7 separate regions of the Homo sapiens genome follow, and all the other regions are reported to be linked to region 3. The links are microRNA targets in miRTarBase. Many come from high-throughput screens and were not tested one by one. Region 3 holds a microRNA gene; each other region holds the end of a gene's coding sequence.

Region 1 (4,080 bases), not on the chromosome of region 3:
GGATTACAGGCGTGTGCCACTGCGCCTGGCCTAGCAATATGATCTTATATTAGTTGCTCTTTACCATGGATATCCTAGAGTTAGGTGGATGGTTCCCTTTGCCTCTCATCAGAATTTTTTCTGGACCTTAGTTTTCCCATCTGTGAAATGATATCATTAGACTTCTGTCTCTAAAATATAAGGCATTTTTTCACTTACTAAAAATAAGGTTGATTTAAGTCAAGAGTATTTACTTAAATTGTGCTCATGTTAATTAGAATGTTAAGTTGCTTCCATCATTAAATCATCTTTTCTTCTCTTTTAGGAATTGCTTCATGTTTGGCTGTTTTCTCAGCACTGATGAAATAGCATTTTCTGACCCAACACCAGATGGCAAGTTATTTGCAACCAAGTACTGCAACACCCCTAATTTCCTCGTATATAATTTTAATAGTTAAAGCTGATTTCAGTTATAAAGGAGTTACTATCTGGATAAGTTCAAAGAGCTCCTTATTATAAAATACAAACTATTTAATATCAAAATAAAAAATACCGAGACTCACACTCATACACACACACACACACACGCACACACACATATCACAGTTTTGTTCCTTATGAGTTGAAAAGTCAGGAATAAATTTGTTGAAAATTATCTGGGGATTCAAAGGAAAAATCTTTGGGTGATTCCCTGATTAGCACTCTGAATGTTTAATTATGAAACTTTGTAGCTATAACTGGAAAATTACCTGACTCTTTGTAAGAGTATTAAATACAAAGTGATTTTTCTCTAGAAATGTGACCTGGTCTTTTATAAAGCCCACTCTTAGACCAGGATTATCTAATGCCACATCAGAAGCAAACAGGCAAATTTAAACTTGGGCAAGTAATTTCTGTGCCCAATTTGTAAAGGGAATTCCTGAATTTTTTTTTTTTTTTAATAGAGGCATGGGTCTCACTGTGTTGCCCAGGCTGGTCTGAAACTTTTGGGCTCAAGCGATCCTCCCAAAACGCTGGGATTACAGTCATGAGCCACCGTGCCCAGCCTAATTCCTGACTTCTCTATACAGAGTCTTCACTTGATAGGCACTCGTCTGTAGTAACTCAGTTTGAATATCTTTAGAAAATGTTTAGAATTTATTTGTAACAAGATGGTAAGGAATAAGATTATCCCATATGCATTTCTGTAGAGCAGAATTTGATAGCTTAGTGTTCAATCTTTTTGAAAATAAATGTTTACCTGTCATCAGATTTAATTAAAATTATACTTAGTAATTGCACTATTACTTAGTTAATTTTTGTTGTATGGAAATATTGGTAGTACTACTTTGGGAACCTGTTACTGACAATTGATGTCATTAACAAAATGCCTAGTTGGATTAGATGTTTTCATTTTCTAATTTTTTGCTTGTTTAAAATGCACCTTACTTGTTCTGAGATACCTGGCAAAAGTCTTTACAAAATGTATGGTAATAGAACCAAGGTTAGTAAATATACATAGGCTGGTGGATGAGAGACCATGGAACTGTGTAAATACACTTAAATGTTCACACATTTTTCTAGTGTAATTCTTGGATACTTTAAAAAGCAAAACATTGTTCAAATTGTTTTGATTCTGAAAAATCATTCAACTGCTAACTGGCAATAAGACTCTAGGCAAGTCGTTTTCCAGATTGTAATTATATGTAGAAACTATTCATCTGCATTCATTTTATTTGCCTGTAAGTTAACATGTTTCCAAAATTTAAAAGCCTGGGTCCCCAAAAGAATGTGGAAGTATTAAAATGTATGTAATTATGCAAACATTTTAATGCTATTTTCTGCACTTATTTCTTTTAAATATTTTATTTAAAATTTTTAATTAACATTTTGTTTGCTTAATGCTTTTGTTATGAATCAATTAAAATTCTTTATTTTATACAACTAAATCTGATTTTAATTATTTTATTATGAAAATAGTATATGTTAAATAAAATTCAGATAATACAGAAATAGAGATTGCCAAAAGAAGAGGCTTCCCGGCCGGGCGCGGTGGCTCACGCCTGTAATCCCAGCACTTTGGGAGGCCGAGGCGGGTGGATCATGAGGTCAGGAGATCGAGACCATCCTGGCTAACAAGGTGAAACCCCGTCTCTACTAAAAATACAAAAAATTAGCCGGGCGCGGTGGCGGGCGCCTGTAGTCCCAGCTACTCGGGAGGCTGAGGCAGGAGAATGGCGTGAACCCGGGAGGCGAGCTTGCAGTGAGCCGAGATTGCGCCACTGCAGTCCGCAGTCCGGCCTGGGCGACAGAGCGAGACTCCGTCTCAAAAAAAAAAAAAAAAAAAAAAAAAAAAAAGAAGAGGCTTCCCTTAATCCTGCTTTGAGTTTAGTGCTTATTACTTTAGAATAACTAAATACATATGCAGTTATTTTGCATCTTGCCTCACTTCAGTATGTCTTAGATATGTTGTATTTCAAGAACTATTTCTATTTTAAATATTTAGCATGATTTGCTATTGATACTGTTGTCTTGGTTGGGTGTTTTTTGTTTGTTTGTTTGTTTTGTTTTTAAGTATAACACATACAAGAAGCAAGTGCACTGAGATGGTCTCAAAGCAATGATACCCTAATGGCAATGAGCACACCTACCACCCAGATCTTGGTTGGTTTCTTTCTTTTTTTCCCCCGCCCTGGGCTGAAGTGCAGTGGTACAAACACGGCTCACTGCAGCCTCGACCTCCCAGGTTCAAGTGATCTTCCCGCCTGAGCTCCCTAAGTAGCTGGGACTACAGGTGTGTGTCACCACGTCTGCTTAATTTTTGTATTCTTTTTTTAGTAGAGACAGAGTGTCACCATGGTGCCCAGCCAGTCCTTAAGCTCCTGAGGCCCTTGAGCTCCTGAGCTGAAGTGATCCTCCCACTTCAGCCTCCCAAAGTGCTGGATTATAGGTGTGAGCCACGGCACCCAGCCAGATCTTGCTTACTAATACCTTCTTCCACAAAAGGACCTGGGGCTCTTTGGAGAAATGGCTCATTCTAGGGATAGGGCAATGAATGTACAAGATGAGCCTAGATCACCTTGTACATCCCCCCTTATCTGCAATTTCGCTTCCCACAGTTTGTTACCAAAAATATTGCATGGAAATTTCTAGAAGTAAGGAATTCATAAGTTTTAAATTGCCCACCATTCAGAGTAGCCACAGTGGGGTGATAAGTGCTCAGTTAAGATGGAAAAGGCATTAAATTTGTGGGCAGAAGACATGCACAGAAACATATTCCTATTGAGGGCAATCAGGTTGAGTACTGTCCATGGTTTCAGGCATTCTACTGGGGGTCTTTGTCATAAATTGTGCCAATATATGTGTATGTCTATTTCTGCCTGTGTATTCTTACTAATTTTATATAGGTTCTATTTATGCTAATACCAGACTGTGTTAATTATAGTATCAATGTTTGCTATAGTATTAGTACATGGTCCCACTTTTTTTCTTCGGTCTATTATTGGACTTTGCATTTCCATATACATTTTAGAATCAATTTATTCCACAAAAAGCTACCAACAACAAAAAAGCCTGTTGGGATTTTATTGGAATTGTGTCAGATCTATAGATCAATTTGGGAGGACTGATTTTTAGACTTGCTCAAGTATTGGATACTTTCTTTTTTTTTTTTTTTTTAGACGGAGTTTTGCTCTTGTTGCCCAGGCTGGAGTGCATTGGCACTATCTTGGCTCACTGCAACCTCCACCTCCCGGGTTCAAGCTATTGTCTGCCTCAGCCTCCAGTAGCTGGGATTCCAGGTGCATGCCACCACGCCCAGCTAATTTTGTATTTTTAGTAGAGACGGGGTTTTACCATGTTGGCCAGGCTGGTCTTTAACTCTTGACCTCCAATAATCCACCCACTTCAGCCTCCCAAAGTCCTGGGATTATAGGCATGAGCCAGTATGCCCAGCTGTTACTTTTTTTTAAGCCATTGGGAAAAGTGTTTTAAGTTACATCTTGTTTGCTGATATATAAACTACAAGTTTTCTGTTTTGACTTTGTATTCACAATCTTTCTAAACTTAATTAATTCTAATTTATCTATTTCTATCTACATAATATCTGTGAATGAGTTTTCT
Region 2 (4,079 bases), not on the chromosome of region 3:
AACATGGCAACTTTTAATTCCCCTTTGATGCTTCTAGCTTTCTTTAGTATTTTAAGAACTCATACAGTACTAGGTATGTTGGTCCCTCTGAGAAAAACATGTGGACTCTCACCAGTCCGTTGTGCTCAGGACTGAGCAGCAGCGTGTGTGCAGGGCAGCTGTGGAGGTGAATACTGATTGTCCCCCTTTTCCTCCACAGGGATATCTGCATTACCTCCACCTCCTCCACCTCCACCACCACCAGCAGCTCCCTTGCCTCCTGCGAGCACCGAGGCACCTGCCCAGCTCTCGTCTCAGGCTGTGAATGGCATGAGCCGAGGGGCCTTGCTCAGCTCCATCCAGAATTTCCAAAAAGGAACTTTGAGGAAAGCCAAAACCTGTGATCACAGTGCTCCGAAGATCGGCTGAAGCTTCCTGTTTACACTTGGAGGGAAAAGTTCTTTTTTATTCCTACTCACCCCTACCCCCCAAACTACCCTCTTCCTGGGAAAGTAATTGCTGAGCCAGTACAGCCACAAACAGTACTATTTTGCAGATGCTCATGTAAGCAGCTTTTCGAGAGAAATAATTCTTTAAGCAGAATAAAGTTAGGCTGGCATTGCTCCCTTAAGATCTTGCTCCTTTATTAACCCTGTAAAGGAGTCTTGTTTATCCTCTAATGGCCAGGCTTTTGGGACAGCAGCATATTGAAATATTTTCACCAACTAAAGGAAATAGACAGAAAAACAATGACAATATTCAATCACAGCAGTAAATGGCCTTTGTGTTGCAATCCCTTCTACCCCATCAGACAGCTCCTAGAAACATTCCTCTTACAGTTCATTTCTCTAAAGCATTTTCTGATTCTTAGATAACTCCAATTTTTGCTACCTTTATCTTAGACATTAACACTATAGCCCAAAGCATAGTTACTTTGCTAAATCAGAAAGCAACTGAGTTCTTTGTTTTCTCCTCAAATAGAATGGGGAACGTTCACAACATTCTCTTAAGTTCTAACAGGAATACCATTGTGGTTATAGAACTCAGGGCTGCTAAAGCAACTACTCTAGACCCATAGTTCTTTTTAGTTAGATGTATTGAAACAGACAAAAATATTAACATCAGAAAAAGCTCTTGCCAATTAGAGGATCTTCTTAATCCTCAGCAATTAAGTTTGGGGTTTGAGGGGGGCAGGTCATTGTTACAACAGAAGTAAATTTGGCATCTATAGAAATCAATTATGATTTTTGAAAGATTTATCTAAATATATCAATATAGCATCTCTTTAATGTTAGTCATTTATTAGAAAGATCCTTTATCCTGATTTGCTTAAACCTTTCAATAAATTGCACTTTAAAGGATTATAAATAATCCATTTAAAAATTCAAGTACACACATCAGTGTTGGTTACTATGCAGAGAATGTCATTGTGTATAGTTTCATGTAATCTGTTATGTCAGCTGTATTTTTTATTAAAATCATGTCAAGAAAACGTGTTGTCTGTAGCTTGACAAGATATTTCAAATGAGAACTTTTTGTAGCGTCTGTTGTTAGCAAAGAATAGATTCACACAGTCTAAGGTTTCCTTCCTACCTATCCTGTCTCTTATTCTTTTGTGTCTCACTTTTCCTCTAAGAACTAAAAATCCTGCCTTGCTACTTAAATTAGGTACCACCTATATGCTTCTCTAACTAATTTAAACCCATCTTTTCCATCTCAGCTTCTGGAGGGCAGTATTTGACAGAATATCTGATCTTTGGAAATGGGAAAAACAACTGATATAAACTTTGCCATAATTTTAAAGAGAATGCTATTAGAATTAGGCATTTGGAGAGTCTGTGGAGAAGTTCCTGTTTCAAGTGTGATGCAACCTAGGTGATTACCTGATGGAGGCTTGTGAGGCCTGAGTCCTTCTGAAGTCAGTTTTGCTGACTATTCTGGATAGTTCAGATATATGAATACAAACAGGTAATGGTCTTGTACAGTATCAGCTTATTTTCCACATGGAACTAATTTCTTTTGTTGTTATTTTTAAGACAGGGTTTCGCTCTTTCACTCAGGCTGGAGTGCAGTGACCCAATCACAGCTCACTGCAGCCTTGACCTCCCAGGGCTCAAGCAATCCTCCTATAGGCACACCACCAGATACCTGGGTTTTTTGTTTTGTTTTTTTTGTTTTGTTTTTGTAGGCAGGGTTTTTGCAACGTTGCCCCAGGCTGGTCTCAAACTCCTGGGCTCAAGCAATCCCTGCCTCAGCCTCCCAAAGTGCTGGGATTATAGGCATGAGCTACTGTGGCCTGGCAGCACTAATTTCTTAATAAATAGAATTTCAAGTTTTCTACCCACATTGACTTTTTTTTTTTCTATCTATCTTTTCTTTGTAGAGATGGGGTTTTGCCATGTTCCCCAGGCTGGTCCTGAACTCCTACACTCAAGGGATCCACCCACCTCGGCCTCCCAAAGTGCTAGGATTACATGTCTGAGCCACCACACCCAGCCAATTCTTTTTTTTGAGACGGAGTCTTGCTCTGTTGTCCAGGCTGGAGTACAGTGGCGCCATCTCTGCTCACTGCAACCTCCGCCTCCTGGGTTCAAGCAATTATCCTGCCTCAGCCTCCCGAGCAGCTGGGTCTACAGGCGCATGCCACCATGCCCGGCTTTAGTAGACAGGGTTTCACCATGTTAGCCAGGATGGTCTTGATCTCCTGACATCATGTTCTGCCCGCCTTGGCCTCCCAAAGTACTGGGATTACAGGCATGAGCCACCACGCCCAGCCCAGCCAATTCTTTCAATATAAAAATACAATAGTCATGGCCAGGTGTGGTGGCTCATGCCTGTAATCCCAGCAGTTTGGGAGGGCCAAGGCAGGTGGATCACCTGAGGTCAGGTGTTCAAGACCAGCCTGGCCAACATGGTGAAACCCCACCTCTACTAAAAACACCAAAATTAGCCGGATGTGGTGGCTAATTTCCTACTGAGGCTGAGGCAGGAGAATCACTTGAACCTGGGAGGTGGAGGCTGCAGTGAGCCAAGATTGTGCCATCACACTCCAGCTTGGGGAACAGAGCCAAACATTGTCTCAAAAAAAAAAAAATTAGTCATGTTAGAAATTCCTTTATTCCTTATCAAAACAAACTAACAGTAAATGTATATTATATGCTTTAATTTTATACATATAAGTTATCTTGTTTGGATACATCTTTCATGAGGACTCTGCCACATCCATACTTTGTCCTTGTGGTGAGAGAGGATAAAATGTTATATAATTTGTTATTCAAAGAACATGGCAACCGTAACAGACAAAAGGAAGCATGGCATCTAGGGGAGGAGAGTGGAGAGTTTTCCATACACAAACACATTTAAACTTCCCTGTACAAAAATACCTGCTGTTGCTTTAGAAATCGTTTTCCGTTATGAATAGTCAGGTCTTGCAGTACAAATCCAGGTGCAGTGCCAGCAAGTATTTCAAATAAATTTCAACGACTTGATATTCAAGTCCAAACTAAATATTTAATGTTTTCTTTATTGCAAATATGATGTCTTTGACCTGAGGTATAGAGTTGTCCTCTAGAATCTTTGCATAAGGCATAGGGACATCAGCACCAGTGACACGAACAGCAGGAGCATCCAGGAAATTGAACGCAGGACCTAGGAGAAGGAAGGCTCAACTGAGAGAGTGCAAATGCCAGCTGGGCACTACCACCTTGGCACAGAGGTGTGGCTGACCAGGAAGAGAAAATGTAAGGAATGCTAATTATGGGGAACCGCTTTCTGGATTTGCTTTTAAAAATATCTGCCTGAAGAGAAATGCCAAACTTACAAGTTTAAAGTTGAAGTCGTTTGGCCACTCCTAGCTTTCAATCTCTTTATCCTGTACGTATTCAGGTACATGATGTTTACTATAGCTTGACTGTATTCTAGAACCAGTTTCTTTGAAATACCTTCCATGATCCTGGCACAGATTTCAGCTCCTACTCCAAACTGTGGCCAGCCTCCTTCCACAGTTACAAGATGATTTGTCTTCATGACACTGGCTTCTATGGTTTCCATGTCCATTGGTCTAATGGTACGCATATTTATCACCTAAACAGGTAATATAA
Region 3 (4,000 bases):
AATTTCAAAACAGAATTAACTTGTTTGTGCTTTATGTAATATACTGCAGACTAGAATACAATGAAAGGACTATTTTAACAGTAGGGAAGAAAACAGCAGATATTCTATTTCAATATGTCCACGGATGACTGCTTTAAGTTTCATGTTATGTAGCTGACACACATATACTCCTCATAAGAATGAATGGACATATTGACAAATGTGAATGATGGAATCTCAAAAAACATACATTTATTTATTGCTCCATACTGTGATTTTTGATGGGAAAAATAAGGTCATCATAAATGGTCTCTATTAGGTTTCTGGGGTGACTCTAGAGTTGAGAATGTGCAGATATGTCCTGCAAAGATTACTAATAGAAAGCCAATTATCTGGCTGGGCACGGTGGCTCATGCCTGTAATCCTAGCACTTTGGGATGCAGAGGCAGGTGGATCACGAGATCAGGAGTTTGAGACCAGCCTGGCCAACATGGTGAAACCCAGTCTCTACCAAAAATACAAAAAAAAAAAAAAAAAAAAAAAAAAAAAAATTAGCTGGGTGTTGTAGTGGGCGCCTGTAATCCCAGCTACTTGGGAGGCTTAAGCAGGAGAATAGTTTCAACCCGGGAGGCAGAGATTGCAGTGAGCCAAGATTGCGCCATTGCACTCCAGCCTGGGTGACACAGCGACAGAGTGAGACTCTGTCTCAAAAAAAAAAAAAGAAAAAAAGCCAATTATTTTATAATATCTCAAATTACTGCAGACTGGAAGAACCAAAAGACATTTTTTTAACCCTTGACATAGACTTCCAGTGGAATGCAGCACAAATCTCAGTTACTGGAAGACAAATATGAGAGGAGAAATAGAGGAGACTCCTTAATTAAGAATACAAAGGTATATTTTGTTATACACTTCATCTCACATTCCAGATAGAAGAATTTCTGGGCTCATTAATGGAAACTTTGCTTATAATATAACATTAAATTACAACTGTTGGCACAGTGAGATTCCATCCTTGATATTCAAATTCTTCTAGAAATTGTCACATTTGATTTTTGGAAGAAGAATAACATTTTAAGAGAAAAAACTATCATTATTAGGTTGGTATAAAATTAATTGCAGTTTTTGTCATTACTTTCAATAGCAAAAACTGCAGTTACTTTTGCACCAATGTAATACTTCTAAACTTTTAGACTTCTTTATTTAAATATAAACACAAACCAATATTCCTTGTTTGTCAATATATTGAATGTGAGCTCTCCTTAGTATCAACGTTGTTAAATATAACATTTTTGTTCCTAAAACTGTGGTTGCTTGAAATAATCAGGTATTTTGACTCATCGGGTGATTATTATCTGCTTTTATTATGAGATAAAATCTAAAATATTACAGGATTTAAAATCAATAAGCATTTATTAGGTACCTTCTTTTCTTTGCAATGTGTTACAACCTGAAGGAAGGAAAGGGAACAAAATGGTGAGGAGGAAGGAGACAAGGAATAAGAGTGTTTCACACAATTTCACGGAGAGAGAAGATTTGAAACTGCAATTGAATTTTATAGAGGAAACCCCAAAGCCATAGAATTAAATGTTTGTTTCAGAATTAAGGAAACATGTCCATTGAGGTTAAACGACGTTACCACAATTGTCCAGCCAATAAGTAGTCACAGAAGGTTCCAAGAGAGAAGTGGGTTTGTGAGTGGGACTGAAGAATGATTGTTTTGGGATATGTTGAGAGCCAAGTAGTATTGCTTATTATATGTCAAGCTTTATGTTCTTTTACCTTTACTGTCTCTTTTACAGCATTACAACCTTTCTTGTTAAATATTGTTAACTGGGCTCCAAAGAAGTGAAGCAGCTTTCTCAAGTACTTATAAACATATCACAGATACAAAGCTGTGTCTTCTGACTATAAATATAGCCTTCTATAGCACACTGATTTGGTGGGTAGAGACATTCCAAATTTTCAGTTTGTTTGAAGTAAGAAATTGAACTAATATTTTGGAGCAAGAGTATATAAGACACCTCACTTAGCCAAAACAGAGCTTTCATGCTCTGTTTTGTATGTGAGAGAGTAGTGAGATCTACAGAGGCTATCAAATTTATTAAAAAGTTATAAATGTTCTATTAACACATAAAGTCCAGAGTGAATGTTTCATACAACAGAAGAAAGTATAATAATAAAACAAAAGGGAAGGAAAGAAGGAAGAAAGGAGGGAAGGAAGGAAGGAAGGAAGGAAGAAAGGAAGGATGAAAGGAAATTAATAATATTAAAAATAAAACATAACCTCTCTGATGAAAAATAATTTGTATATGTCTATATGTGAATGTAACATATATTAAGATCCAAATCAGCCAGAGAAGCAAAAGGATGTTGCATGTTATAGCAGTAATTATCCTTATGTGGATGGATTATAGGTAATGTTTTTCTTAGATTTTTTTTCCTTCAAATTTTCTACAAGGAGCTTACATGGATTTGGTAACTCAAAAAAATCAATTTACATAGAAAGAAATACATGTATATAAACTAAATTATTGTTTGAATGTAAAATTTTGCTAAATTTTAAACCATAACATGTACAGTTGGGATAAAAGCTGGAACATGTTATACTGAAACAGTGTGAATATTCCATTATTTTATCAATGCATTATTTTCAATTTAATATTTTTCCTAATGAGGATGAAACACAAGTTAATATTCTATTTTTGATAGACTCCATAAAAATTTGCAGTTTTCAAATATCAAATTGTGTATAGGTAGATACATTCAGGTATGGATTTCAAAATTGTAGTCTGGGCTCTAGCTTTTGATGCTGATAAATATTATCTAACCAATTATGCTGACAGAATTAAAAAGAAGATCTATTCTTGTCCTTTTCACATGTGGAATTTGTTACTGGTTTAATACCGAATTGCAATAATTTAGATTGGCCTATACAATTTCAAACACAACATTAGGTTGATAATAAACACAAAATACAGTCTTATTGACTGTATTTGATCAGTTCTGTGTTTTTAAATTTTTAGAAAGTTATTACTTATTGCCTACTTAGTGACCTGATTTAAGGTATTTTTCAACTTATCTGTTACATATTGATGCCATTTATTAAGGTGTATCTTTCTGTGACACTTTTTAGAAATCAATAGGATAAGTGGCATTTATTTTGTGTTGTTTCTTCAAAAATGTCCTGAAATATTGACGGTATATTTTTCTTTGAAATTATTCAAACTGTTGCAAATCAAATATCACAAAATTTATTTTTCTGTTAGCATTTCTAAAGCTAAATTAATTCAGTATTTTAACTGCATAGATTAATTTATTTAGAACAAGACCACAAAAAGTTTTTAAAGTCACTCTACTCATTATTTTCAAATAAGATGCTTTGCAATCACAGTTTCATTTTCAAGACACTTCAGTGATATTCTATTTGTGGTGTCTCATAAGATGTCCTGTATCAAAAAATTTGGAGTGATTTCACGTCTCTGACACCATTTTAAAGCCAATAATTTTGCTTTCAGCATTTCTAACGTTGTAGTTACTTATTTGTATTGCATGTAGAAATTGCTTTGGTATTTGTCAATGAGCAACCATAGTTACATGAACCTCGAGGAAACCTCTCCAGAATTAGGAAATGGAAAGCATTTGTTGATAGTAAGAAGTCTGGAGTTTCATACAAGTAATATAGCAGCATTTTTCTCACTTTAGAAATAATTCAGCATGACCTTCATACTGCCAAATTGTTCCTAATCATTGACTTTGCCTAATGGAAATACTGTTTTCTTTTTGACTGATTTTGAATTTGCTTGGCTTACTTTAAAAATTTATAAATAGATAGTTTTTTTTTAACTAACCAACTCTATCACCTAACCTCTGCAACCATACATATTCACAATACTTTCACATAAATCACATTCACAATACTTTCTTATAATCATTATTTCATGTTAAAAAACACTTGTTTTCTCAGAGCCCAGAGAGCTTCAGGCCACATCATAGTTTCTTCAAAGCCTTCAAAGAAGTT
Region 4 (4,066 bases), not on the chromosome of region 3:
TGGGATTACAGGTGTGAGCCACCACGCCCAGCCAAAGGGGCGTATTTTTATAATACATCTTTGGCCTAGTGTTTATTTTCTTTAAAGGTTAAAGTCTAGAAAAGGAAGTATATATGTATGTAAATACATAGTTCATGATGACTCATGCCTGTAATCCCAGCACTTTGGGAGGCCAAGGCAGGAGGATCCCTTGAGTCCAGGAGTTCGAGACCAGCCTGAGCAACACAGTGAGACCCTGATATAATTGTTCAGTATGTATGGTGATAAAAGAAAATATACATTAGAATTTACTAATAGCTGGAAAGGACTAAGTCTTCCATTTGCCTACTCGAAATTTTTCTATTTTTTTTCCTCTTTAAGTCCCCTTTAGTGTTTATCATGTGCAAGGTGTTGCTGTGCTTAATGCTGGAGAAATTCTAAGATGTATCTTAAGGAGCTTACAGTCTGATATAGAAAATAGACACGTGGACAACAACTATAATTGAAGGCTTAATAAAATAAGTATAAGAAATATGCTGCAGCCAGGCACAGTGGCCCATGCCTGTAATCCCAGCACATTGGAAGGCCAAGGTGGGAGAATTGCTTGAGCCCCAGGAGTTCGAGAACAGCCTGGGAAACATAGTGAAACCCCATCTCTATAAAAAAGAGAAATATATAAGCTTCAGGTGTACTGAGAAGGAAATCATTAATTCTGAGGGGTAATGGGAGATAAATCAGTCTATATTAAGATCTACTAACAATAGCTTTTCTTTTGTTTTCTTAATAGACGAAGAATGCTGTTCAAGCTTTGATTGATAAGCACCAAAGAATACCAGGAAACATTATGAGTGCTTTGTTAGAACGTTTTCATTGATAACAAAGGGTCAACTAGAAGATGATTTAGTACATTTATATTAAATGTTTGTATCTAAGGTACTGTCTTCTGAATTTTGTAGGTCCTATAATTAGTATTTTTTAAAAAAATCATGTTAATAAGCATCTTTCACAGAATTCGTTTCTTTAAAATAGTCAATTTTGTTTTTGCAATTGTGTCAAATACTAACAAATTACACACCTAGTAATTCAGAAAAAGATGTCTTATTTGTAAATTCCTAACAATTTATGCTAAACATATAGATTCTTAAGTTTATTAATAACAGCAGTTTAGGTTAAACAAACATTCCTGGATAATGCGTTAAATTTCTGTATCTGTCGCCCTGAGCTGATTTTGAAAGATGGTATAAGCTAGGGGTTAGTATAGTTGTTTAAGTTAGAAAAAACATGCTGTTGTCTGCCCCTCATTCCCTTCATGACCTTGGGCAAGTCACGTAATGTTTTTGTGCCTCAACAATTCACTTTTTAAAAACATGATCGTATGATGAATGATATTATTTTGTTATTTATATTTACTGTGATTGATAACTGTTGAACCAAAATAATAAAATAATTAATTTAAACAATGTCAAAATCCTTTAGCAGTTATGTATATATTTTCTCCATTGTGTGTTTAAATTATGTCATGTCCAGTTGCCAAGCACAATGAAAAAGATGTATTATTTTTTAAATTGAATAAAAAATTAGGAAAAATAAAATTTCTAATTATTATTTTTAGTATGATATTTTTAACAAGAGTCTATAGGCAAACAATATAGGGTGTGCTGTGCATTGTCAGCCCTATACTGTGGTCTTAATAATGCCAGCTTAAAAATCACTGTTGTGCTCTGCATTTCGTGTGTTAGAAGCTGATTCTAGGCTGAGGAAAGCAAGAGTTCTCTACTTTTGCTCAATATTGAGGCTTACCCAGTTTGACTCTACAGCCAGTGAAGTGGTTTATTGCTTCAATAAAAATATACTTGAATGATGAATTTATTTATGTTTTGTTTTGTTTTTATTTAGAGATGGGGTTTTGCCATGTTGGCCAGGCTGGTCTTGAACTCCTGACCTCAGGTGATCCACCTGCCTCAGCCTCCCAACTTGCTGGGATTACAGGTGTGAGCCACCATGCCCAGCCTGAATGATGAATTTATGTGAACACAAAGCCCTCTGAAAAATTAATGATTTTCAATTTGTTGTCTTCTTGAAAACTGAATTTAAGTATTATTTAAACAGAAAAGTGTCAGAAATCAAATGCAGTATCTCCCTCTCCCTTTTTTAAATGTTGAATTAGTAGGGTTTTTGTATAGCTTTTTGTATTGTGTGTATTTATGATATGTGAAATGTACATAAAATTAAACAATGTGAAAATAAACCTGAGTTGCAGTTAATTTTCTTGAGAAATTACATGTGACATTTTAAAAATCTTTTTTTTTTTTTTTCTGAGATGGAGTCTCGCTGTGTCTGTTTCCCAGGCTGGAGTGCAGTGGCACCATCTTGGCTCACTGCAACCTCCGCCTCCCAGGTTCAAGCAATGCTCCTTCTGTCTTCTGAAGGAGCCTCCTGAGTAGCTGGGATTACATGAGTGTACCACTACACCTGGCTAATTTTTGTGTTTTTAGTAGAGACAGGGTTTTACCATGTTGGCCAGGCTGGTCTTGAACTGCTGACCTCAAGTGATCCGCCCACCTCAGCCTCCCGAAGTGCTGGGATTACAGGTGTGAGCCACTGCGCCCACCCTAAATAGTCATTTTAAATTGATTTTTTTGTTGTACTCTTTACACATTTCTCACCTATAATCATATTCTTTGATCTAGCCACAATGAAGAAACTTCACTTTCCAGTGTAATAAATATATTTTAATTTTGTGGTCAATGAGAAGAGTCAATTAATGATTACTTGCAGTTTCCTCCCCCCACCAGTGAGCAGTGTTTGGTTCAAAATTGATGAAATATTTCAGAATGAATGAATAAATGATATAAAATGAATGAGAAATTTGTTTTGGGTCAACTATTGAGTTTTAAAGACTGAAGTTAGCCAGGAGTGGTGTCATGAACCTGTAGTCCCAGCTACTTGGAAGGCTGAGGCGGGAGAATTGCTTGAGCCCAGGAGTTCGAGGCTGCAGTGAGTCGCAATTGTGCCACTGCACAGCCTGAGTGATAGAGCAAGCCCATGGTTCTATTAATAAAGACTAAAGAAAGAACAGCATTTATTGCTAATGTGGCAAAAGCTATTATTTTTACAATATTTAAGTTTTACTGCTTTAATTAAAACCTTTTTTTAAAACCCTGATATTCAGACTAACATCATTGCTTCAGATCTTTATCTTTGCTATTTGAGTTTAATTCCCATTTATAAGAGTCAGAGAATATGACTAAATATAGAAATATGGCTGGGCATGATGGCACACACCTATAATCCCAGCACTTTGGGAGGATTGCTTGAGGCCAGGAGTTTGAGACCACCTGGACAACATAACAAGACCTCTTATCAAATAAAATTTTTTTGTTTTTAAATTAAGCTGGGTTCAGTGGCTCACACCTGTCATCCTAACACTTTGGGAGGCTGAGGCAACTGGGTCACTTGAGCCCAGGAATTCAAGACCAGCCTGGGTGAAATCCTGTCTCTACAAGAAAACGCACAAAAATCGGCTGGGTATGGTAGTGCACACCTGCAGTTACAGCTACCTGGGAGGCTGAGGTGGAAGGTTGAGCCTGGAGAGGTCAGGGCTGCAGTGAGCCATGATTGTGCCACTGCACTCCAGCCTCAGCAACAGAATGACACCCTGTCTCAAAAAAAAAAAAAAAAAAAAAAATTAAAACAAAAGAAATATAAGTAATGGGAAGAAGGTGTATCAGTTTTTTTTCATAATTTTTCTTTCCCTTCTTATCACTTCTATTCATGTGTCTTGACCCTTTTTTGAGGAGTGTTCACAGTCAGAACCTGATGCAAGTATGAAGAGCCTCTCTCCAGAAGTGTAAACATGGCGCACTTATGGGAAGTTTTTCTTGCTCATTTTTAAAAACTTTCATTCTGAAACAATTCGAAGCTTACAGAAAAGTTGCAATTATAGTGCAGAGTACTCCCATACACTCTTCACCCAGATTCACCAAGGTAACATGTCACATTTGTTTTATTCTTTTCACACTCCTGTTGCCCTCGCTGTCTCCACATATGTATCTATACTTTTTCTCCTAGATCATCTGATAGTAAA
Region 5 (4,080 bases), not on the chromosome of region 3:
TTTGCGACTGAATCTGCCCAGGGACATTAAAGTCCAGGATGGTTTATGTAAGTGTACTTCTGTAGCTCTATTCCTAGCTGACTATTCTTCGATTCCCTAATCACAAAGAAATGCATTCTTATGAAGTTAAGCAGCTGTAGACACAGAATGCTGATGACATTTTCTCCATATCTGAGTTATCTAAAGAAAACCCAGTTAGTGGTAATTCTACCAAATACTTGTAACATTCACATAAAATTTTAATTGATTTTCAAATAGTACAACTGTGCCACGAATCCAACCACATAGAATATAAGCCTTAAGCCCACTAGGTTTAAGCAATTGTGTCTTTGTAGACTAAAACTATGTAAAATAAAATCTGATAACTCCCTGGTGTTAGAGGTAGACAGTTTTCTTTCAAATCCTAGGTTTGGTCCTTTATTTTATTCAGCAGTGAAAGCCATGAATACAGAACGAATAACAGCTGTTACAATTCTCAACCATGACTTCTAACGTCAGAGAATTCAAAGTATGAACATAGTACACAGTAATGAAAAGTATCAAAAATTAGTTTACCTCAAAAAAGATAAATAAAACAGGTATATTCCACCAATACATAAACAGATGTTTGTGCTACAGTTTAAAATTTGCTGTATACAAAAGATCATAGTCCCCATAATCAGCTTATGATAGAAGCAAGAATACATGAGCCATTTAAATTGTCAGACATTATGCTTTATAAGGTATGCACAGAAGTTCAAGCAATAAATACATACATTAGTTCAAAGCCTTACAATAGCTACGCAAAGCAGATGCAGAAAAGCAGATTTGCTATTACTAGCAAGCAATGATATAAGAGTAAAAATTCATGAAATGCATTAAAGCAACATTTTTCTTAGAAAAAGTCTGGTCATTTATGGGTCCACCAACATTTTTACATAATATGCACAATTATCAAAATACAGACCAAGCATTTCAGGAAACTCCAAAAAACCTAAAATCTATTTTCAAAGCAATTGCAGTTTTGGAGGTTTTTCTGGTATAATGTGCAAGCAGCTATTTTTTAAAATTGTATTCATATAAAACCCATGCAAAACTCTACAGGTATATGCATTCTGTGGCTGAGACTTCCTTTCAAAAGTTTTCTAACTGAGGTATGCATACTTTAGCATTGTAGTCTTAGGCCACCCTTCTGATGGTACAACTCTCGCAGTTACTTCCAGTCCCTCAAAGCCTTTTGAACATGCACCTGAAAGACCCATTTTTCCTTTCAGATAATCCTTACAGTAGGATCCTAGATGACTGAAAACCATCTTTCACCATACCCATCTTTCTTTTAATACCATATTGTAAACTTCCGGTTCGTTGATCATGACCCAAAGACAAACATAATGAAAAGTAGCAGTTACTGTGACGTTCTCACGTTTCATGCAATCTGCCATAATTGTTCTAATGTTTTTCTTTTTTTTTTTTTCTTTTTTTTTTTTTGCAGAGGTAGAAGCTTTCAGAAAGCCTTTTGGGTAAGTGGGAAAACCCTTTTGAAAGCCGTTATGTCCTTTTATTTGGTGTGATAGATGACTGGGTATCTCTCTAACTCTATTTGCTGACTTCAGCAAAGAATCAATGATGAGCTTAGTTTGCAAGAACCGGTTCCATCACATGGAACGGGAACGTATGTTAAGCTCTAGCAGCCACCTTCTGTCAAAACTGTTTGTAAAGCAATAACCATAATCAGGTTATGAGGTCCCTTGGTTGGGGGAAAAAGTATTATCAAGACTTGGCACAGCACATGAAAAGCAACATGTTAAGTTTCTAGGTTTTAAGCAAACATCTGACTATGCTATTTTCAACTACATCATAACTCATTATCATAGTTTTGGGGTTTGGAATTGTCAAGAAAACCAGCATTCCAACAATTTGGCCTGTGCAAGTCTTTGAAGGGAGTGTATTGTTAGTGTTAATATCCCGTATAAGCAGAGGCAGAATTATATGTAACTTTGGTTTGACTGAAAATAAATACCATGGACTACAATTGCTATAATCTTTGCTTTCAGTGTAAAAACTCAGCTAGATCACTTTAAAATCAATATGAAATTAATTTTTGGCTTTACTAGACCTTTTATGTTTGGTTCCTACTTTTTGTTTTTTCATTATAACTTAAGACTATAAAAAAATAGTACACAACAAAGATTAAGACCATACAAGACATCTTCTAACAACATGTATTCACCACTGAAAATAACTGACTGAATGAGGGAAAACAAAAACACAAAGTACTATATATATAACAATATGCAATCTGCATTTGCATCAAGTACATAATCGTTTTGGTCAGTGATCCACATTTGTTGCTTTCTAGCATATCATAACTTCCACTGCGGATTTTGTCCTCACCTCTGTCTTTAATGAAAGCAAATCTTCATTGCATTTAGATGGACTTTTGGCCTCAGAAGATTACTCTGTGACTGAATTAACATTTTTTAGTTGTGGTTTTTGTCATATTTGTTTCTTTGTTTAGGGCTAAATGAAAAGATCCCAGAGGTCATCAGAAAACAGCAGGTAGTTCATGGAAAAGGTTCCTTTGTACTAATTGAAGTTACAGAAGGCTGACCAAAGCATGTGGCTGCTTCTGTCCTTGAGCTCTTGGCCATGGTTAGAGTTGGCTTTGGTTTGCAGCTGTAGCCTTTGACTGTGTTTGCAGGTAGACAAAGCTTTATCACAAGGAGGTAAAGAGTACAGTTGTAAGATCTATGCAGATATGCAAATGTTTCTATGGTGCTTGCACAGATAATGTTAGCTTAGGATTGCACTTTACATCTTAACACTAACAGCACAGACTGGAAGCCTAAGGTTTTAGATGGTTGCAACAGTCTAATTACTGTGTTTTGTAATAACTAACTTATGTCATTTACAGTTGGTGGCACCAACATAAAAAACTAATGTTCTGTTGTTTAAAATTCAGCTAGATACAAGCAGTGACACTAATTTCTGATACTACTCCTGTGCAAATTAAAAACAATAGCAACAAGTTGAACTTGACCAGCAATTGTTTCTAACATTACAACTACTGAATGCTGGAAAATTCACATTAATGAAACTAACACTATTTTTGGCAGTATATGAGGCGCATTTGCTTTCTACAGGACATGTATCCTCATATTCAGTCATTTCATGAACCCTTAAGAGCCACATTTTTTAAATGGGCAAAGCCATTATAGAAAGAACAGTTCATTTTTTTTTTTCAAGAAAATCAGTTTTTGTCTTTTTTTCTAAAAAAAAAAAAAAAAAGAAGAAGAAGAAGAAGAAAACAAGCAATTTGCCTGTTGGTACTGAATCCCAAAGGGCTGGCTTAGTAAGTTCCTTTAGGGCTGTCTCCTTTATCCATGCTTAATAAATAGTCACAGTAAAAATTTGTCAAATATTCATGGTTGTGGAGTGGTTATGAAGGTCAGTGATATGTCCCTTCACGCTGAGGTTTCACAAGTCAGTTCTCATTCCAGATCTTCAGATAAAGGCTCTTCTTCAATCTCTCTGTCGTCTTCTAATTCTGGACTGTGATTAGCTGTTGTCACTAAGGACATTGGGCAGTCTTCATCCTCTGCAATCACTGGCTCTTCCTTGACGTGGATTGAATGTCTGAAAAACATGTAGATACACCAAAATTTTACTAAGTAAGCAACAAACAGAGTTTGGCCAACTTTGCAGTGAAGAGGTCAACTGAAAAAAGGCAAGAAGACACAACATTGTCTTTCTTAAAAGGGCATCTGATTGATTGCGTGAGCTGGTTAGAGACATGATACTTTACAGTAGAACTGTGGAGGCAGGGATTCAGAGTAATGTGAGCATGGACTCCCACATGCTGTGCTGTTTAGGTAAAACATCCGTTTCTCAGCATTCTTTCTGAATGAAATGTTTTGTTAGTATTTGTTATAACATGATAATCAAGGAGTGGTAGTAAAGGAATAGTAAACAAATAATTAATCAACAAATGAAAACACTTTTACCATTCAGTTTTTTGCTAGCAATTAAGATAACAACTGTTATTTCTAAATATTTCAGACTTGAGTTTAACAATTTTATTTCTATTTTTTTTTAAACTCT
Region 6 (4,080 bases), not on the chromosome of region 3:
CCCAGGAGGCGGAGGTTGCAGTGAGCTGAGATTGCGCCATTGCACTCCAGCCTGGGCAACAAGAGCGAAACTCCGTCTCAAAAAAATAAAATAAAAATAAAGGTCCACATGGAAGCCTTGATTCAGGAGGGACTCTACAGGTGCCCTAAGGAAAGACCTCTCCGTTCTGGCTCCTACACGTTAGAGACCAGCTACAATGCAGAAGACAAAGTTGAGACCAACGCGGGGAAGCAGGGACTCCTGTTACCTTATTAGAGGATTTGCTGTTGGGTCCCTTTAAATAGTGAGCTCTGGTGAGTTTTTAAATTGCTTTAAGTAAGTCAGAGGTCCCCAGCCCCAGGGCCACAGACCAGTATGGGTCTGTGGCTGTTAGAACCTGGCTGCACAGTAGGAGGTGAGCAGCAGCGGGTGAGCATGACCACCTGAGCTCCGCCTCCTGTCAGATCAGCTGCAGCATTAGATTCTCATAGGAGTGCAGACCCTATTAATTATGAACTACGCATGCGAGGGATCTAGGTTGCATGCTCCTTAGGAGAATCGAATGATCTGTCACTGTCTCCCATCACCCCCAGATGAGACTGTCTAGTTTCAGGAAAACAAGCTCAGGGCTCCCATTGATTCTACATTATGGTAAGTTGTATAATTATTTCATTATATGTTACAATGTAATAATATAAAAATGCATAATAAATGTAACGTGCTTGAATCATCCCAAAACTATCCCCCACCCCCAGCCCTGGTCTGTGGAAAAATTGTCTTCCACAAAACCTGTTCCTGCTGCCAAAAAGGTTGGCGGCCACTGCTTTAAGTGACAAGGCACAAAGCGCACAGTACGATCCCACCCAAATTTGCCAAAAACTCACCTTCTGCCTGAGCCACGTACGTGGATCTAAAGTGGAATCTCAGCTCGTTCCAAAAGCTTTGCTCCTCTTCTTAAGGATCAAAAAGACTGATTTCAAAGGGAAAGGGGTCCATTAAACACTGGGGGACCTTCCTTGCCAAGGCTCTTATCAGGCTCTTGCAGCTCCACCATCCAGGCCACCCTCTCAGGCTGAGAGGAAAGGGCTTATCTAACCATGTGGAAACAACACTGCCTCTGCTGGGTCGAGACTGGACAACCGCTGGGCCTTTTCAGCCCCTAGGCCATGATCAATATCACTAATCGCTTTACCTTCTGTGCCCAGCCTGCGGATATTCAATTTCTCTCAGGCCTAGAGCTAACGTCATGTGTCTGGCTGCTAAAAGCTCCGGCTCCTTTTATTACCACAGTAAAGGAAGATAACAGGCGAGAGGTCTGCTGTAGACATTTATTGAATCATCTGTTGCACCAACAGCACATTGTATTTCACAGAAGATTGGCCACAGGCAAAATAAAATAACCCACCACAAATCCGCTTCTGGGGGCCTTCTTCAGCTCCTTAGTCATCCAGTGTTCACTTTGGCAAACAGACCAGTTTACAGACTTTTGTTGCAAATCTAAGGTTCCATTTCTCTCTGTAGCATTCCGGCTAGAGAGAGACACGATTGTACTTTGGTAGTTTGTCTAAGGCGGAGTTTTCCCACATGTAAACATTTCACTATACAAGTGTGTGCCAGCTGATTGAAGAACTGACGGCACCCCTACCCCTGAAGAGTGTACAGTCTAAACAGGAGGCGAACACTGTCATCCGGACAGGCTGAGAGGAGGCGGGGAAAGGGGCTCGAAGGAGCCTGGGCAGACCCTGCTGGGGAGGGGCCTGGACTACAACCACCTGCTCCCAGAAATGACACTGCCTGAGGCAGGAGACACAGCAAAAGCCAACTATGGGAAATCTGAGCATTAGAGGAGACTGGCCCCTTTCTCTAAGACGGCCTCAGGTAGGAAAAGGGCAGCCATTACAAGAAGAAGAGTCGTCAGGTTTGGAAACTGTATATTAAGCCCTTCACTGAAGTACACAGTGTCTGTGTGTGTCTCAAGCTAAGCCATGCTCCTCAAACACCCAAAAAGAAAGGAAAACAGGGAGAGAACAGTCACCAGATCCAAGAAGCACATGATCGGTGTTCTTTTTTTTTTCTTTTTTGAGCCTGTCGCCCAGGCTGGAGTGCAATCTCAGCTCACTGCAAGCGCCATCTCCCGGGTTCACACCATTCTCCTGCCTCAGCCTCCCAAGTAGCTGGGACTACAGGCGCCCACCACCACGCCTGGCTAATTTTTTTGTATTTTTAGTAGAGACGGGGTTTCACTGTGTTTGTTAGTCAGGATGGTCTTGATCTCCTGGCCTCGCACACGATCAGTGTTCTAATCACACTATTTCCAGGCCGAAGCCAAATGGTGACTCAGCTAACATGACACTCTTTATGGGGCTGGAGTGATGTGCAGACACCACGGGGGATGACTGTAGTTGTTCTGACTCCATCCTGACTTCCTGGAAAGATGGGCAGCAGATAAGGAGAAGGCTCGTCCTCCAGAACAGAGGCAGCAGCTCCAGCAGCCCCAGGGGGCTCTAGCCACAGCCAGCAGCAGCGGTTTTTCATTTAAAAAATTATAAGGTTTGTGCCCTCTGCCTCCCAGCCTGAGCAGAGCCTGGGTGAGCCTGGGAGAGGAAACCAGAGCTGAGCCGCAAGGGGGGTGCTACAAGGAGGGAGCCCCAGCAGGAAGGGGCTGCAAGGTGCCCCCCATCCCCAACCCCCATGTCTGGAGCAGCCTGGGAGGAGGCCCGCCTGCATCTGCCAAGAGAAAGTCTGTCTGAAGTCATGGGCTTCTATCCCCTCTCCCACCAAAGCCATCCTAGGGCTAAAGGGTTAAAGAAGAGGAAGGTCAGGACTACAGCTGGGCCACAGCCTCATCTCAGAGCTTCCCAGGGGCCAGTCCCTCCCCTCTCCTGGGGAACCTTGCTTTCACCACCAACATACTTTACACATCATATCACTTGCTCCTCTGCCAAAGGCCGGGCCCATTTGTGCCACGTGTTATTCAGGCTGGAGGGACTCCTTGTTTGAATTCAGCAGCCATCGTGGCCTTTCCAGGCCTGTCCCTGAGGCCCCCCCAGTTTCCCCTGGCCTTGCCCCAGGCATCTGCTGCCAGGAGGGTGGGGCCTCCTCTCTCGCTTCTTTAAAGATCTGTGCTCTGCGACCAGGACCGAACACCCGAAGTCCTACCCAAAGCCTTCTGCACTGAAGGGGGCAACAGAGACACGGGAGCCACACACAATGAACTGGTCTATAGCAGCGGAGAAAGGAGAAGCAGAGGAGGCGGAGACCTGACCCCAGAAAGCAGCACTCAAACAGATGCAGCTGCACCCACGCGCCCGCCTGCTGCCAGAGCCACTCTCCGGAGCCTGCAGTCCTGAAGACGCCTCAGCAGGGGCAGGCAAGAAGACACCCCGCGAACCCCCAGGGCCGGCCGGGCGCATCACTGGGAGCCGGGGCTATCTCCCTCCGTCAGCGTCTTGAAGTCCATGGAGAGGGCCTGCTCTTCCGCCTGGGAAGGCCGCTTCCAGTCGGCCCGGGTCAAGATGTAGAGCACCGCCCCACCGAAGCAGGCCAGCAGCAGGCCCAGCACGTTGGCCAGGACACCCTCGGGCTCAAATGCGCTATACTTGCCCCTGCAGGGGTGAGAGGAAGGGAGAAGCTGCCCAAGGGGTCACAATTAGGCCAAATGCCCTTTGTATCCTGGGCCTTAAAGATGCCATGGGGATTCCAGCACCAGCCCCTGCCTCCCTGCCCTGCCTGAAGAGAACAACCATCCCCCCGCCCCCAACCAGCAATCTCCAGCTATGGCTCACAGACAAAAAGAGATGGGCAATGTAAAAACCTAGATCAATATTCTAGCTCTAAGCAGTTGTCCTGCAGATCCTGCTGCGTGGTGGGAATAAATAGGGTGCCCATAGCCCAGAAGTTTCTTTGAAAGGGTAAAATCAAGAAAGCTAACCAAAGCCAAGCCCCAAGCACCCAAATCTTAGCAAGCATAACTACAGCCACCAGTTGTGACGCCACGAGAGGCGGCTCAGGAAGCCACAGCTGGGGAAGCTGAAGGCAGGGTGAGGTCTGTGCAAGGGTGGCCCAGGCCCTGCCCTCTCCCACCCAGGACACTCACCCGAG
Region 7 (4,070 bases), not on the chromosome of region 3:
TACTGGACTATGGGCCTGACTGATGGGAATAAGTATCGGGCTCTCACTGAGCCCAGAACCAACCTGAAACTTCCTGAGCCTCCTAGGAAAGTGGGGATCTTCCTGGACTATGAGACTGGAGAGATCTCGTTCTATAATGCCACAGATGGATCTCATATCTACACCTTTCCGCACGCCTCTTTCTCTGAGCCTCTATATCCTGTTTTCAGAATTTTGACCTTGGAGCCCACTGCCCTGACCATTTGCCCAATACCAAAAGAAGTAGAGAGTTCCCCCGATCCTGACCTAGTGCCTGATCATTCCCTGGAGACACCACTGACCCCGGGCTTAGCTAATGAAAGTGGGGAGCCTCAGGCTGAAGTAACATCTCTGCTTCTCCCTGCCCACCCTGGAGCTGAGGTCTCCCCTTCTGCAACAACCAATCAGAACCATAAGCTACAGGCACGCACTGAAGCACTTTACTGATATTCATTCCATTATTCCATATGACAGTTGTTTTGAGTTTCGTACCACCTTATTGTCCCCTTATACAGATAAGGAAACTGGGGTGCAGAAAGGTGAATTAACTTTACAAAGTAGACATGACAAGTGAACAGCAGAGCTGGGATCTAAACAGCAATAACTAACATTAACAGAGAATTTAAAATGTTCTTAGTGCTGTGTTATAAGCTTTGGTGGATGTCACTCCTTTAATCCTCACAACACCCTGTCGGGTAGTCATATTTTGCAAGTATGGAAGCTGAGGCAGGGCAACATGAAGTAACTTACATAACTCATACAGTAATTTGTGCAGTTGGGAGATGTTCAGCCTTAGTCCCTGGCTAATTGCCTGTTCTTTTCCAGCCTGATTTTTTTTCCCACAGGAAGAGCCCACATGTAGCCCTGAGGTTTCCTTCCCAGGACAGCTGCAGGGTAGAGATCATTTTAAGTGCTTGTGGAGTTGACATCCCTATTGACTCTTTCCCAGCTGATATCAGAGACTTAGACCCAGCACTCCTTGGATTAGCTCTGCAGAGTGTCTTGGTTGAGAGAATAACCTCATAGTACCAACATGACATGTGACTTGGAAAGAGACTAGAGGCCACACTTGATAAATCATGGGGCACAGATATGTTCCCACCCAACAAATGTGATAAGTGATTGTGCAGCCAGAGCCAGCCTTCCTTCAATCAAGGTTTCCAGGCAGAGCAAATACCCTAGAGATTCTCTGTGATATAGGAAATTTGGATCAAGGAAGCTAAAAGAATTACAGGGATGTTTTTAATCCCACTATGGACTCAGTCTCCTGGAAATAGGTCTGTCCACTCCTGGTCATTGGTGGATGTTAAACCCATATTCCTTTCAACTGCTGCCTGCTAGGGAAAACTGCTCCTCATTATCATCACTATTATTGCTCACCACTGTATCCCCTCTACTTGGCAAGTGGTTGTCAAGTTCTAGTTGTTCAATAAATGTGTTAATAATGCTTACTCCTCAGCTTGGCTTTTTCTAGACTGTGGTGTCTACTCAGCACAGTAGTCTGCACACCCACTGTACTCACCACAGTCTCAGTTTACCTCACTGCAGCATTTTCACAAGACCCTTATTGGATGCATTTTCTGTTGTTGCCATCTGAATTACCAGAAATGTATAGACATTTTTTTTTTTTTGAGATTGGATTGTGCCACTGTACTCCCAGGCTGGAGTACAGTGGCACGATCTCAGCTCACTGCAACCTCCACCTCCCAGGTTGAAGTGATTCTCCTGCCTCAGCCTTCCGAGTAGCTGGGACTACAGGTGCGTGCCACCACGCCTGGCTAATTTTTTGTGTTTTCAGTGCAGACGAGGTTTCACCATGTTGTCCAGGATGGTCTCGATCTACTGACCTTGTGATCCACCCACCTCGGCCTCCCAAAGTGCTGGGATTACAGGTATGAGCCACCGCGCCTGGCTTCAGAAATTCATGAACTTAAAGCAACACAAATTTATTATCTCACTGTTCTGTAGGTGAGAAGTCAGAAGTCCCACAGGGATCTCACCAGGCTAGAATCAAGGTGTCTGCAGGCTGGATTCCTTTCTGGAGTCTCTAAGGAAGAATCTGTTTCCTTGCTTATTCAGACTATTGGCAGAATCAGTTCCTTTCATTTATAGGACTGACGTCCCAGTTGTTCCCTGGTTTTTAGCTAAGGGCTGTACCCACTTCTAGAGGCTGCCACACTCTGGCTCCTAGCTCCCTTCCTGTATCTTCAAAGCAGCAACAGCGCATTGAGGCTCATCTCCTAGGTCTTTTTCTCCATTGTGTCTCTCTGATTCTTTTACCTTCTCCTTTTTTTCCTTCCTTTCTTTTTTTTTTTTTTTTCTTCTTTGACAAGGACTCGCTCTGTCACCCAGGCTGAAGTGCAGTGGCGTGATCTCAGCTCACCACATTGTCCCCTGGGCTCAAGCAATCCACCCATCTTAGCTTCTCAAGCAGCTGGGAGCACAGAGCCACATCACCATGCCTGGGTATTTTCTTGTAGAGACAGGGTCTTGCCATGTTGCCCAGGCTGGTCTCAAACTCCTGAGCTCAAGCAATCTGCCCACCTTGGTCTCCCAAAGTGCTGGGATTATAGGCATGAGCCACCACGCTCAGTCTGCCTTTTACTTTTAAAGACTCCTATGATTAAACTGAGATCACCCAGACAATTTAGAATAATCTCTCTATTTTAAGGTCCATAACCTTAATTCTGTGTAAAATTCATTTTACTGTGTTATACATTCTTTTCATAACTTTCATAGTGAATATAGCTCAAAGGGTGGGTGCGGGGAGCACTATTCAGCTCACCACACTGATTTGGGAAGTGATTCCAGGAAACACAAGTGCAGAAACAAATTGAGAAATGAAAAAAAGCCAATTACATGACAAATGGGATAAAGGGTTCACTCATGAGTCAGTTACCATGTGGATAACTTGGCTGAATCCCTTTTAGGACTCTCTAAGAAACCATATGAAATGTGTGATATAGCTCAGAATCTTCCTAAGGACTACAGGGCCTGGGACTTTATCTCCACTTCCCATCCTCCTTTGCTTGAATTGGTTGAAGGTTGGCCTGGGAGTGTTAATTCTAATGCACTTTAAGATTGGGCTATGTAACTGCAGAAAAGCAACTATCACGGGTGTGATAAAGCTCACAGGCAAAGGAGAAGGGAGATACTCACTGGAGGTGGAAAGGTTGTCATCCTTGCAGAAAACTGTGCCTCAGCTATTGGCAAACTGTGATAGGCCAAGAGAATATGGGATGGGGCATCAACAGCGTCTGTTATAAGGGCTCTGCCTCTGAGAATATAGTGAATGCCTTTCAAGGTCTCTCTGCCCTCGCTGTACCACATTTAGCATTAGTGACCTCTTCTCTTCCAATACATGCCCACATCACATGGCCCTGCAGCCTCACCACATGGACTGGGTCTGGGATGGACACCTGACCCAGGCTAGGCCAGAGGACCAAGTGACATGTGGCTAGTTACTCCTGTAGCAGATGTGCATGGGAGCTGTGGGAAGAAATGCTCCATTCATGGTGTGGACTAAACAATGGTGGATTGCAGAGAAGACCAAAGCAGATGAGCAGAGAGAAGGCTACAAGATGGAAAGAGTTTAGGCAAATTTCTCACGTTTGGTTCTTTTAGAAGCCCAGTATCATTTCTTCTTTTTGAAAAAATGTGTTCTTTTGAGGCAAGATAAATGTACTCGTTAATATTGCTTGTAGTCCTAATATTCAGAAGCTTATGCAACTATTATAATATGTTCAGTGATTCTGTGAGTCAGGAATCTAGAATTTGAACAGGGCAGAGTAGGAATGGATTTTCTGTATGTCAACATGTCTAGGCCTCCCCTGGGAGTACTCCATAGCTGGAGATGACACAGCTATATTACCTTCACAGACTGTAGTTTATTGTAAAGCAAAAGGAAATCAATGCTTACCCTGTATCCTGGTTCTTCCAGGGTTGGCAGGTCCATAAAGAACCTTGCCAACGTGACCCTTCCTGTCTCTATCCCTCCCACTACAGAGCATGATTGGGTTAGGTTGTTACTATCTAACCGGGCACACCCCAGT

Evidence for each region. Region 3 holds the annotated microRNA hsa-miR-548p (UAGCAAAAACUGCAGUUACUUU, at 1,121-1,142, shown strand). A microRNA usually pairs through its seed, bases 2 to 8, with sites in the 3' UTR of a target mRNA and lowers its output. Matches are read on the target gene's strand: a 7mer-m8 pairs with bases 2 to 8, a 7mer-A1 pairs with bases 2 to 7 and ends in A, and an 8mer does both.
Region 1: miRTarBase lists ESCO2 as a target of hsa-miR-548p. Seed matches in the 3' UTR shown: 7mer-m8 at 1,382-1,388.
Region 2: the mRNA of PXK is a reported target of hsa-miR-548p. Seed matches in the 3' UTR shown: 8mer at 862-869 and 7mer-A1 at 913-919.
Region 4: miRTarBase lists TMEM68 as a target of hsa-miR-548p. Seed matches in the 3' UTR shown: 7mer-m8 at 1,757-1,763.
Region 5: the mRNA of FOXP2 is a reported target of hsa-miR-548p. The part of its 3' UTR that is shown has no 7-base or 8-base seed match.
Region 6: the mRNA of CYB561 is a reported target of hsa-miR-548p. Seed matches in the 3' UTR shown: 7mer-m8 at 1,790-1,796.
Region 7: the mRNA of BTN3A3 is a reported target of hsa-miR-548p. The part of its 3' UTR that is shown has no 7-base or 8-base seed match.

The regions. Positions count from the first base shown.
Region 1 is chr8:27,803,002-27,807,081 of GRCh38, forward strand. It overlaps ESCO2 (establishment of sister chromatid cohesion N-acetyltransferase 2), which reads left to right. Exons shown (of 11, transcript NM_001017420.3): 11 at 305-2,315. The coding sequence ends at 437. Among named protein-coding and RNA genes, the nearest start is that of ESCO2, 30 kb to the left of the region's middle.
Region 2 is chr3:58,424,553-58,428,631 of GRCh38, forward strand. It overlaps PXK (PX domain containing serine/threonine kinase like), which reads left to right. Exons shown (of 18, transcript NM_017771.5): 18 at 200-1,575. The coding sequence ends at 408. PDHB (pyruvate dehydrogenase E1 subunit beta) reads right to left here. Exons shown (of 10, transcript NM_000925.4): 9 at 3,921-4,062; 10 at 3,078-3,627. The coding sequence ends at 3,482. Among named protein-coding and RNA genes, the nearest start is that of PDHB, 7.2 kb to the right of the region's middle.
Region 3 is chr5:100,813,640-100,817,639 of GRCh38, reverse strand. MIR548P (microRNA 548p) reads left to right here and starts at 1,075; the gene lies at 1,075-1,158. The region is part of intron 4 of ST8SIA4 (ST8 alpha-N-acetyl-neuraminide alpha-2,8-sialyltransferase 4); the gene reads left to right.
Region 4 is chr8:55,736,919-55,740,984 of GRCh38, reverse strand. It overlaps TMEM68 (transmembrane protein 68), which reads left to right. Exons shown (of 8, transcript NM_001286657.2): 8 at 767-2,227. The coding sequence ends at 853. Among named protein-coding and RNA genes, the nearest start is that of TMEM68, 34 kb to the left of the region's middle.
Region 5 is chr7:114,689,317-114,693,396 of GRCh38, reverse strand. FOXP2 (forkhead box P2) reads right to left here. Exons shown (of 17, transcript NM_014491.4): 17 at 1-3,615. The coding sequence ends at 3,471. Among named protein-coding and RNA genes, the nearest start is that of MIR3666, 38 kb to the right of the region's middle. RefSeq lists an enhancer at 3,680-4,080.
Region 6 is chr17:63,431,011-63,435,090 of GRCh38, forward strand. CYB561 (cytochrome b561) reads right to left here. Exons shown (of 6, transcript NM_001915.4): 5 at 4,076-4,080; 6 at 1,294-3,584. The coding sequence ends at 3,392. Among named protein-coding and RNA genes, the nearest start is that of CYB561, 13 kb to the right of the region's middle. RefSeq lists a silencer at 4,071-4,080.
Region 7 is chr6:26,451,947-26,456,016 of GRCh38, forward strand. It overlaps BTN3A3 (butyrophilin subfamily 3 member A3), which reads left to right. Exons shown (of 11, transcript NM_006994.5): 11 at 1-1,469. The coding sequence ends at 465. Among named protein-coding and RNA genes, the nearest start is that of BTN2A1, 4.0 kb to the right of the region's middle.